Linked DNA regions of Homo sapiens: all the other regions are linked to region 2. The links come from fine-mapping of genetic effects on gene expression. A gene starts in region 2. Each other region holds a variant in brackets. All regions are shown on one strand. Distances are from middle to middle. Region 1 overlaps C1orf159 (chromosome 1 open reading frame 159). Region 2 holds the start of C1orf159 (chromosome 1 open reading frame 159). Region 3 overlaps C1orf159 (chromosome 1 open reading frame 159).

Evidence for each region. PIP is the estimated chance that this variant, and not a neighbour inherited with it, causes the effect.
Region 1: its variant is fine-mapped to the expression of C1orf159 in whole blood (TOPMed, PIP above 0.99). The same link has a PIP of 0.9 or more in thyroid.
Region 3: its variant is fine-mapped to the expression of C1orf159 in whole blood (TOPMed, PIP above 0.99).

The regions. Positions count from the first base shown.
Region 1 is chr1:1,094,226-1,096,979 of GRCh38, forward strand. The region is part of intron 1 of C1orf159 (chromosome 1 open reading frame 159); the gene reads right to left. Among named protein-coding and RNA genes, the nearest start is that of C1orf159, 20 kb to the right of the region's middle. The variant A/G (reference allele first, on the strand shown) is at 1,455.
Region 2 is chr1:1,114,954-1,117,707 of GRCh38, forward strand. C1orf159 (chromosome 1 open reading frame 159) reads right to left here and starts at 1,136. Exons shown (of 10, transcript NM_017891.5): 1 at 1,107-1,136. RefSeq lists silencers at 827-1,426, 1,597-1,716, 1,757-1,806.
Region 3 is chr1:1,080,261-1,083,014 of GRCh38, forward strand. It overlaps C1orf159 (chromosome 1 open reading frame 159), which reads right to left. Exons shown (of 10, transcript NM_017891.5): 10 at 1,563-2,727. The coding sequence ends at 2,633. Among named protein-coding and RNA genes, the nearest start is that of RNF223, 7.3 kb to the left of the region's middle. RefSeq lists silencers at 1-31, 1,661-1,840 and enhancers at 239-941, 942-1,643. The variant A/G (reference allele first, on the strand shown) is at 1,576.

The DNA of each region.
Region 1 (2,754 bases), 21 kb before region 2:
TAGCTGAGACTACAGGTGCATGCTGCCATGTTGACCTCCGGGGCTTAAGTGATCCTCCTACCTCAGCCTCTCGAGTAGCTGAGACTAGAGGTGTGCGTCACCACCACGCTCAGCTAAAACACATATTCTTCATCAGACTTATGTATTGCAAATATTTTCTTCCATCCTGTGGTTTGTCTTATCATCTTTTTTTTTTTGAATTGGAGTCTCTGTCGCCCAGGCTGGAGTGCAGTGGCGTGATCTCAGTTCACTGCAAGCCCCGCCTTCTGGGTTCACACCATTCTCCTGCCTCAGCCTCCTGAGTAGCTGGGACTACAGGTGCCCGCCACCACGCCCGGCTAATTTTTTGTATTTTTAGTAGAGACGGGGTTGCACCATGTTGGCCAGGATGGTCTCGATCTCCTGACTTTGTGATCCGCCTGCCTTGGCCTCCCAAAGTGCTAGGATTACAGGCATGAGCCACCTTGCCCGGCCCCCGTCTTATCATTTTTTTATGGACATCTTTTGAAGAGCAAATGTTTTTAATTTTAATGAAATTTTTAATAAAATTGAATGCATCCATTTTTCCTTTTGTGGTTCTTGTTTTTTATGTCCTAAGAAATCTCTGCCTTGACCTCATGGTCACTAAGATTTACTGCTTTCTTCCAGAAGTGTTACAGTTTTAGCTTTTGCATTCTGAGTCACCTTTGTGTATGGTGAAATGCAGGTCAAGCGTCATTTCTTTCCTTATGTATAAACAGTTGCTAAAAAGACTTTTCTTTCCATGTGGAATTACGTTGACATCTTCATTGAAAATCAATGGACTATAGAGGTGGGGTCTATTTCCAGTCTTTCTATTCTGTTCCACTCACCTGTGTGTCTATTCTTCAGGGACACTGCGGCTGACTGGATTACTGAAGCTGTAAGTAGAATAGAAACTTTGAAATCAGGGCACGTATCAGCTCCACTTTGATTAATTGCTTTGGCAATTCCAGGTCACATGTGTTTCCATTTTAGACTCATTGTGTCAATTCCTACAAAAAAGCCTGCTGCGATTTTGACTGGCAGAGCCGATGTTTTAACAGGATTGAGTCTTTTCATCACGGACATGCTGTCTCTCTTCATCCCTCCGCATCTTCTTCAATTTATCTCAGCAGTGTTTATAGTTTTCAGTGAACAGGTCTTGTATATCTTTTGTTAAGATAATTACTAAGATTTTACTTTTTGTTATTACAAATAGAATGTAATTTCTGATTTCATGTTCCGATAGTTTGCTGCTACTATATAACGATAAACTTTGCACCTTAGCCTTGATATCTGAAATCTTGCTAAATTCACTTAATAGTTCTAGCAATTCTCTGTAGCTTTCTTAGGACCCTCTGCATAAATAATCATGTCATCTACAAATAAATACAGTTTACTTCTTCCTTTCTAATCCTTGTGACTTCAATTTGCCTTTTTTCTTACCTTATTGC[A/G]GTGGCTGGGACTTTGAGTATAATGTTGGACAGAAGAGTGAGAATGGGTGTCATCCTTGTTCTTGATTTTAGGGATAAAATGCTCAATATTTCGCCATCAAAAGTACAACGTCTAGTGTAGGTTTTTCATAGATGTTCATTTATCAGACTCAGGGAGTTTCCTTCTATTCTTAGTTTACTGAGGTTTTTTTAAAAAAATCATAAAACAGGTATAAATGTTTCCAAATGTCTTTTCTGCATCTATTTCAGTGATCATCCTTTCCTTCTTTATTCTAGTAATATGGTGACGACAAAGATTCATTTATGAATCAAAACAACCTTGTATCACTAGGATAAACCACACTTGGCCGAGGTGTACTGCCCTCTTAGGCTATTGTTGGATTTCACCTGCCAATACCTTCGTAAGGATTTTTGCCTGTGTTCATGAAGGATAGTGGTCTATAATTTTTTTTAGGTGTCTTTGTCAGGTTTTGGTATTGGATTATATTGCCTCATAAAACAAGCTGGGAAATAGGCCCTCCTTTTTTTAAAGAGAGACAGGGTCTCACTCTGTTGCCAGGCTGGAGTGTAGTGGTGCGATCATGGCTCACTGCCGCCTTGAGCTCCTGGGATCAAGGGATCCTCCCACCTCAGCCTCCCAAGTAGCTGGGGCTACAGGTATAATTTTTTTTGTACACAGGGTCTCACTATATTGTCCAGGCTGGTCTCGAACTCCTGGCCTCAGGTGATCCTCCTGCCTCAGCCTCCCAAAGTGCTGGGATTACACGTGGGAGCCACAGCACCCGTTCCCCCTCCTCTTTTATTTTCTGAAAGAGTTTGTGTAAGAATATTGTGATTTCTTCTTTGAATGTTTGATAGAATTCACCAGGAAACCATGTATATTTGCAGGAGTTTTCTTGGTAGGTAGGTTCTCCGGTAATTAATTCAATTTCCTGAACAGAAAGAGGACCATGCAGATTTCCATTGCTTTTGACAAGTTATATTCTTCCAAGAGTTTATCCATTGCATTGAAATTGCTACATTTACTGGCCTAAAATTGTTCATCATAGTCTCCTATTATTTTGAGACATGGCCTCACTCTGTCACCCAGGCTGGAGCAAAGTGGTGTGACCTCAGCTCACCACAGCCTCAGTCTCCCAGGCCCAGGCCATCCTCCCACCTCAGCCTCCCAAGTAGCTGGAACACAAGCAAGTGCTGCCACACCTGGCTAATTTTTTGATTTTTTGTAGAGACAGGGTCTCGCTATGAAACAAAACTGAAGCATGATGTTGCTGGTCTTGAACTCCTGGGCTCAAACAAT
Region 2 (2,754 bases):
AAATCACCACTAAAGAGCTTACCCATGTAACCAAGTAACCAAACACCACCTGTACCCCAGTAACTTACGGAAAAATAAAAGAGGAAGACGCAGCTCTGCCTTCTCTGCACACCCTGGTAATACTAAGAAAAATGAAAACCAAAAAAAGGAGGCCAAGTTTGACATCCTGAAATTTAACAGGACGAGGCGGCTAAGAATTCAGCCACAAAATAGTTCCCGGGGAAGAAGCCGCGTTTGCTTTGAAACGCGGTAAGAAATGCCCCCGAACACCTGGGCTTAAATTACACCCAAACTCAATCATCGACTCGCTGCCACCGGAACACGCGCTCCCGAAAAACTGCACCCCGACTAGCCCTCGGCTACTCCAGGTGACAAACGGACAAAAACAAATCCTAAAGCCTCGCGGGAAAAAGACCTGAATCGTGGCCGACTTCTAGGACACCGGGGACCGCGCCGGTGCCCCCACTCCCGGCTGCCGGGAAGGCGAGGCGAACGCGCCCCCTTTCTTCCCCCGGGCGCCCGTCCCATCCCCTCCCCAGGGACCCCCTCCCTGCCCCGAGAACCCCCTCCCCTCCCCAGGTGCCCCCTCTCCCCCAGAGACCCCCTCCCCTCCCCAGGGACCCCCTTCCCTGCCCCGGGAACCCTTCCCCTCCCCAGGGACCCCCCTCCCTCCCCAGGGACCCCCTCCCCTCCCCAGGGACCCCCTTCCCTGCCCCGGGAACCTTTCCCCTCCCCAGGGACCCCCCCTCCCCGCTCCGGGAACCCCCTCCCCTCCTTAGGGACCCCCTCCCCACCCCTCCCCGGGGTCCCCCTGCCCTCCTCAGACGCCCCTTCCCCTCCCCAGGCGTCCCGCTCAGCCCGGGCGCCTTTCCCCCATAGGACCGCGGCCAGGCTCGTTGGGAGGCGGCGACGAGGACGCGGGCCCAGGCGCTGGCGGCTCCTCCGCGCGCCGCACAATGGGGGACGCGCAGGGAACGTCCCTCGGGCCGGGCCAGGGCCGCCGACCTTTGTCTGCCTCTCGCACTCCCTGCGCCGACCCGGCCGCCCAGACGGACCCCAGCGCCCCAACCCGCTACCCTCACGCCTGCCCCCAGCCCCTCACTCACCCCGGCGCCCTCCGGGTTTCTCTTTCGTACACCCCGCCCTCAGGCGGTGGCGCCGCGCCCCCTGGGACTTGTAGTCTTTCTTCCGCCCCGGCCCCGGCGCCAGGCCCCGCAGCTCCCAAAGAAAACTACAACTCCCGGCGGCCCGCGCGAGAGCCGCCCTCGCCTGGTGGTACCATCGCGCGCGGCCGTGGGTGGGGCGCCGGGGCGGGGCGCGAAGCGCCCTGGGAAATGTAGTCCTAGAAGAACCAGCGCATGTCTCGGGTCCCTGACACGGAGGGACTACATTCCCCCGGATTCCTCGCGCGCCGGCTGCTTGGCGTTGCCGGGAGACGGGGCGGGGCGTCGTCGGGGTCTCCCGGGCGACCGCACAAGCGTCGGCGTCCTTAGCGTTCCGCCGGTTTAGGCGGAGGCGGAGGCGGAGCGTTTGGGGGCGGCCGGGGCGGCTTCGGCTTCATCGGAGAAGGCGGCGCGGCTGCACCAGGTTTGGCCGCGGGCGCGCGGGGCCAGCGCCCTCCAGACCCACGGAGCGCCCCGAGCGCCTCGCGAGCCGCCGCCAAATGCGCCCCAGGTCCGCGGCCGGCGCCAGTGCTGGGACCTCGGCGGCCGGTGTCGGAGCGCGGCGGGAGAGACCCTGCCTTGGGTGCGGGACTGGGACGGCTCGGACCCAGAGGGCTCCCGGGGCTTCGCCTCTCGGACGGGTCAGGGCTCTGCGGTCTCAGGACGCTCCCCCGTGAGTCTCGGCGGCCCCGGGGTCTGGGCGGCGTCGCTGCCCCACAGGCCGGGCGCGTGGGTTTTTCCGGGGCTCTGCCTCTGAGCCACCCTCGGAGAAAAGACAGCTCTGTGCGTCCCGCGGCGCCCGCAGCTTTCGGCAAACATGTTTAAAGGAGCTCCCCGAAGGAACTGGGGACGTCCGTCCGCTCATCAAAGGCTTCAATCCTGTCGGTGTCCCCGGGCCCTCTCCTAGCTGGGCCAGCGCGCAGGGTGGGGGGGCGCTGCAGGTGTCGCGGCCCCCCCCAACCTCCGCAGACCCTTCCAACCCCTCAGACCCCCCAAAACCCCCAGATCCCCCAACCCCCCATATACCCCCAACCCCTCAGACCCCCCAACCCCCCAGACCCCCCAACCTCCCAGGCCCCCAGACCCCCCAGCTCCCTTGCTCCCGGGAGCTCCCAGGCCCGTCCTGCATGCGCCTTGGGGTTGTTCCTCCTTGATGGACGCCGCCTCCGGGTTCCATCCCAAGTTTAAATGCCAGAGATTTCAATGGAAATAAAGCCCCCATCTTAACAGCGTGAGGATGTTTTGTAAACAGTATTGGGGACAGCTGGGGAAGTCACATTTGTGTCTTCTCTTTAGAGGGACAGTGTTCGCCTGAGGGTCCATCCCAGGGTTCCCTCAGGGCCTCTGGAGGAGTTGATGCCACCAGTGTCTGGCCGTGGGACACCTGGGCGTGGGCGCCCAGCACCAGGGGTTCGCTGACAGCTGCAGGGTTTCCGGCCATGCGCCCGCGGACGTGCAGCTTCTGTGTCGGTCCCATTAAGAGGAACCTGGCCTGGGCGACGTTTGAGGACCACGGGGAGGACACAGTCGCGGTCCCCTTCTCGGAGTCCAGTCTGTGCCACAGGCTCTTGCCGTCTGCGGCAACTCATTG
Region 3 (2,754 bases), 35 kb before region 2:
CCTGTGCCCAGTGAGGAGGGCGTGCCCCTCGCTGCCACAGGTCCTGGCTGACCACGTGCTGCCCAAGGGCCAATCGCGAGTGCGCAGGTGGGGGACGTGGGGAGCCAGCTGAGGGGGATATGTGGAGGTGTCAGGATGACCCTGGGTTTTTGGTTTGGGCCACTGGGTGGGAGGAGGAGGAGGGGACCCAGAATTGAGAGATGGGGCCTGGGGGGCTGCTCAGAGGGTGGGCTGGGAGGTGCCTGTCTGTGTCTGGCCTGGCCTCCAGACCCTGCCTGGCTGGACCTGCTGTTCGTGCCTGTTTCCGATTTTATCCTCCAAACCAGACGCCCAGCCTGGTGCAAATGCAGGAGTGGAGTTTCCAGGGGGATGTGGACTCCTTCCCTCCACCCCCACCTCGGTCCCTGTCTCCTTCCCTCCGCCCCCACCTCGGTCCCTGTCTCCTTCCCTCCGCCCCCACCTCGGTCCCTGTCTCCTTCCCTCCGCCCCCACCTCGGTCCCTGTCTCCTTCCCTCCGCCCCCACCTCGGTCCCTGTCTCCTTCCCTCCGCCCCCACCTCGGTCCCTGTCTCCTTCCCTCCGCCCCCACCTCGGTCCCTGTCTCCTTCCCTCCGCCCCCACCTCGGTCCCTGTCTCCTTCCCTCCGCCCCCACCTCGGTCCCTGTCTCCTTCCCTCCGCCCCCACCTCGGTCCCTGTCTCCTTCCCTCCGCCCCCACCTCGGTCCCTGTCTCCTTCCCTCTGCTCCCATCTCGGTCCCTGTCTCCTTCCCCACAGGAGGAGTCTGGGGGCTCCCGCGTCACAGGGGCGTGGCCCAGGGCATCAGGTGGGGCGGTGGGTACTGGGCTCAGAGTGGCCTTGGGCTGTCCAGTCCCTCCCTTTCTCCCCAGGACCAGTGACCCTCCCAGCCCCAGGACACTTCTTGGGCCAGGGCCCAGGGCAGAGCCAATGCTCCCCCAGATACTCCCTGGCTGCAAACCTCAGGCTGGGGGTTTTTGGGGACAGGGATGCAGGTGTCTAAGGACACGACCCTCCAGGCAGTGGACGTTTCTGCCTGGGTGGAGGGCACGGTTACGAGAGCAGGGCCCGCGCTCTGGCATCCTGGTGCCCGGGCCCTCTGCCCTCAAGGCCTGTCCTGCCCCAGCTCAGCCCTCTCTGGCCAGGCCCATCACTGTCAGCAAACACCCCCACACTGCTGCCCCCCCAGATGGCCATGGCAGCCCTCCCGGGGCCCGTGTCTGCAGCCCCCACGCAGCCCGGCCGGCCGATGGAAACGCACACCCACACTCTGTCCCACCTCACTCCGAGCTGGGGGTTCGGGGACCACAGGTCCCACCTGCACAGGTTGCATCTGGGGAATGGGCCTGTGGCAGAAAATGTGCGGCGCGGGGCGGGGGGTCCCAACCAGGCAGCCCCAACCTGGACTCTCCTCCACCCCCGTCCCACCTCCTTGCCCCCAGCACACGGTGGCGGAGTGCGTGGGGCCAGCCTGGCGGGGGCTTTGCTCCCCGACCTGCACTTAGAGAACAGAGCATCCTACGGGAGAGAGCAGCTCGGAACGCAGCTTGAGTAATGCCG[A/G]CTTTATATCAGCACACCCAGTGCCCCCACGTTCCCGCTGGCCCAGGTCCCGGAGACCATGATGGCACCCACAGTGGACTTCGCAAAGGAGCGTGGGGACCCCGAAGGCCAGGCCACCCCTCAGAGGGGGGTCCCATGCTAAAGCAGACGGTGCCGGTGCCGCAGGGCGTCTGAGACCCACGGTGGAGCCCGGGCCTGGCGTGCGGGAGGCGGCCACGACGGCGCCTTTCTCCCAGGAACTCCGGGAGGGACCCCAGGACTCAGCGCCAGGGCAGCCTTGGCAGGTGCAGTGAGGCAGTGACTTGTGGGGGTTAGATGTGGGCCTGCCCCACGTGGGCAGGGATCAGCCAGGCATGGGGGTCCAGCGGATCCGAGCGGGGCCACAGAGCTCTGGAGGACTTTTCTGCACAATGAATTTCTGCTTAAAAACAGAGATCAAGAGGAAGCTCTATCCTGCAGCTCCGGAAATGGGTGGCTGCGTGCTTGGGGTCTCCGCCACGCGGGAGGACAGCCCAGAGGCACCCTGGTCTCAGGCAGCTGGTTCCTAGGCTGTGTCCTCCCCACTGGCCGGGCACCGGCTGGAACGGCACGAGGACCAGCCTCACTGTTCTCAGAGGGGTCTCGGGCCACTGGGTGTGGTGGTGCTGGAGGAGTCCTGCCCGCTGTGGGCTCTGGAGGGCACGGCAGCAGAGCCCCTGGCTTTTCTAGGCAGAGCGGCACCTGCCCCATAGATCGTGCCAGCTTTGGCTGCAGGCGCTGGGGCCTCACCGTGTTTCCTGGGGGGGCCCGGACCCCCCAAGGCCTCGATCTGAAGCTCTGAGGTCTCATGGATGCCTGCTCCTGGTCCGATAAACGAGATGGCTGTGGTGGGGAGGAGCCTCAGGCGGCCCGGGACCCTTTGGCGTCCGTCGCTGGGAGGCGGAGGGACTCAGAGCCGAGGCTGTGCCCAGGACTGTCCCGGGCGCCGGGCGATGCCAACACTTTGTGCTGGTTCCCGCCAAGGGGTCGGCCTCCGGGTCCCTGCCGCCAAGTGCGTGGCGTGGTCTCGGCCTCCAGGTCAGACATTGCTGATACGGGCCTCCCCCGGGAAGGCAGCGGGATCCGTGGCCCTGTCCAGGGGCCGCTCCCGCCTGACGTAGCGCGGCTTCCGTACTGAAACGGGTCAGAGACAGGCGAGGT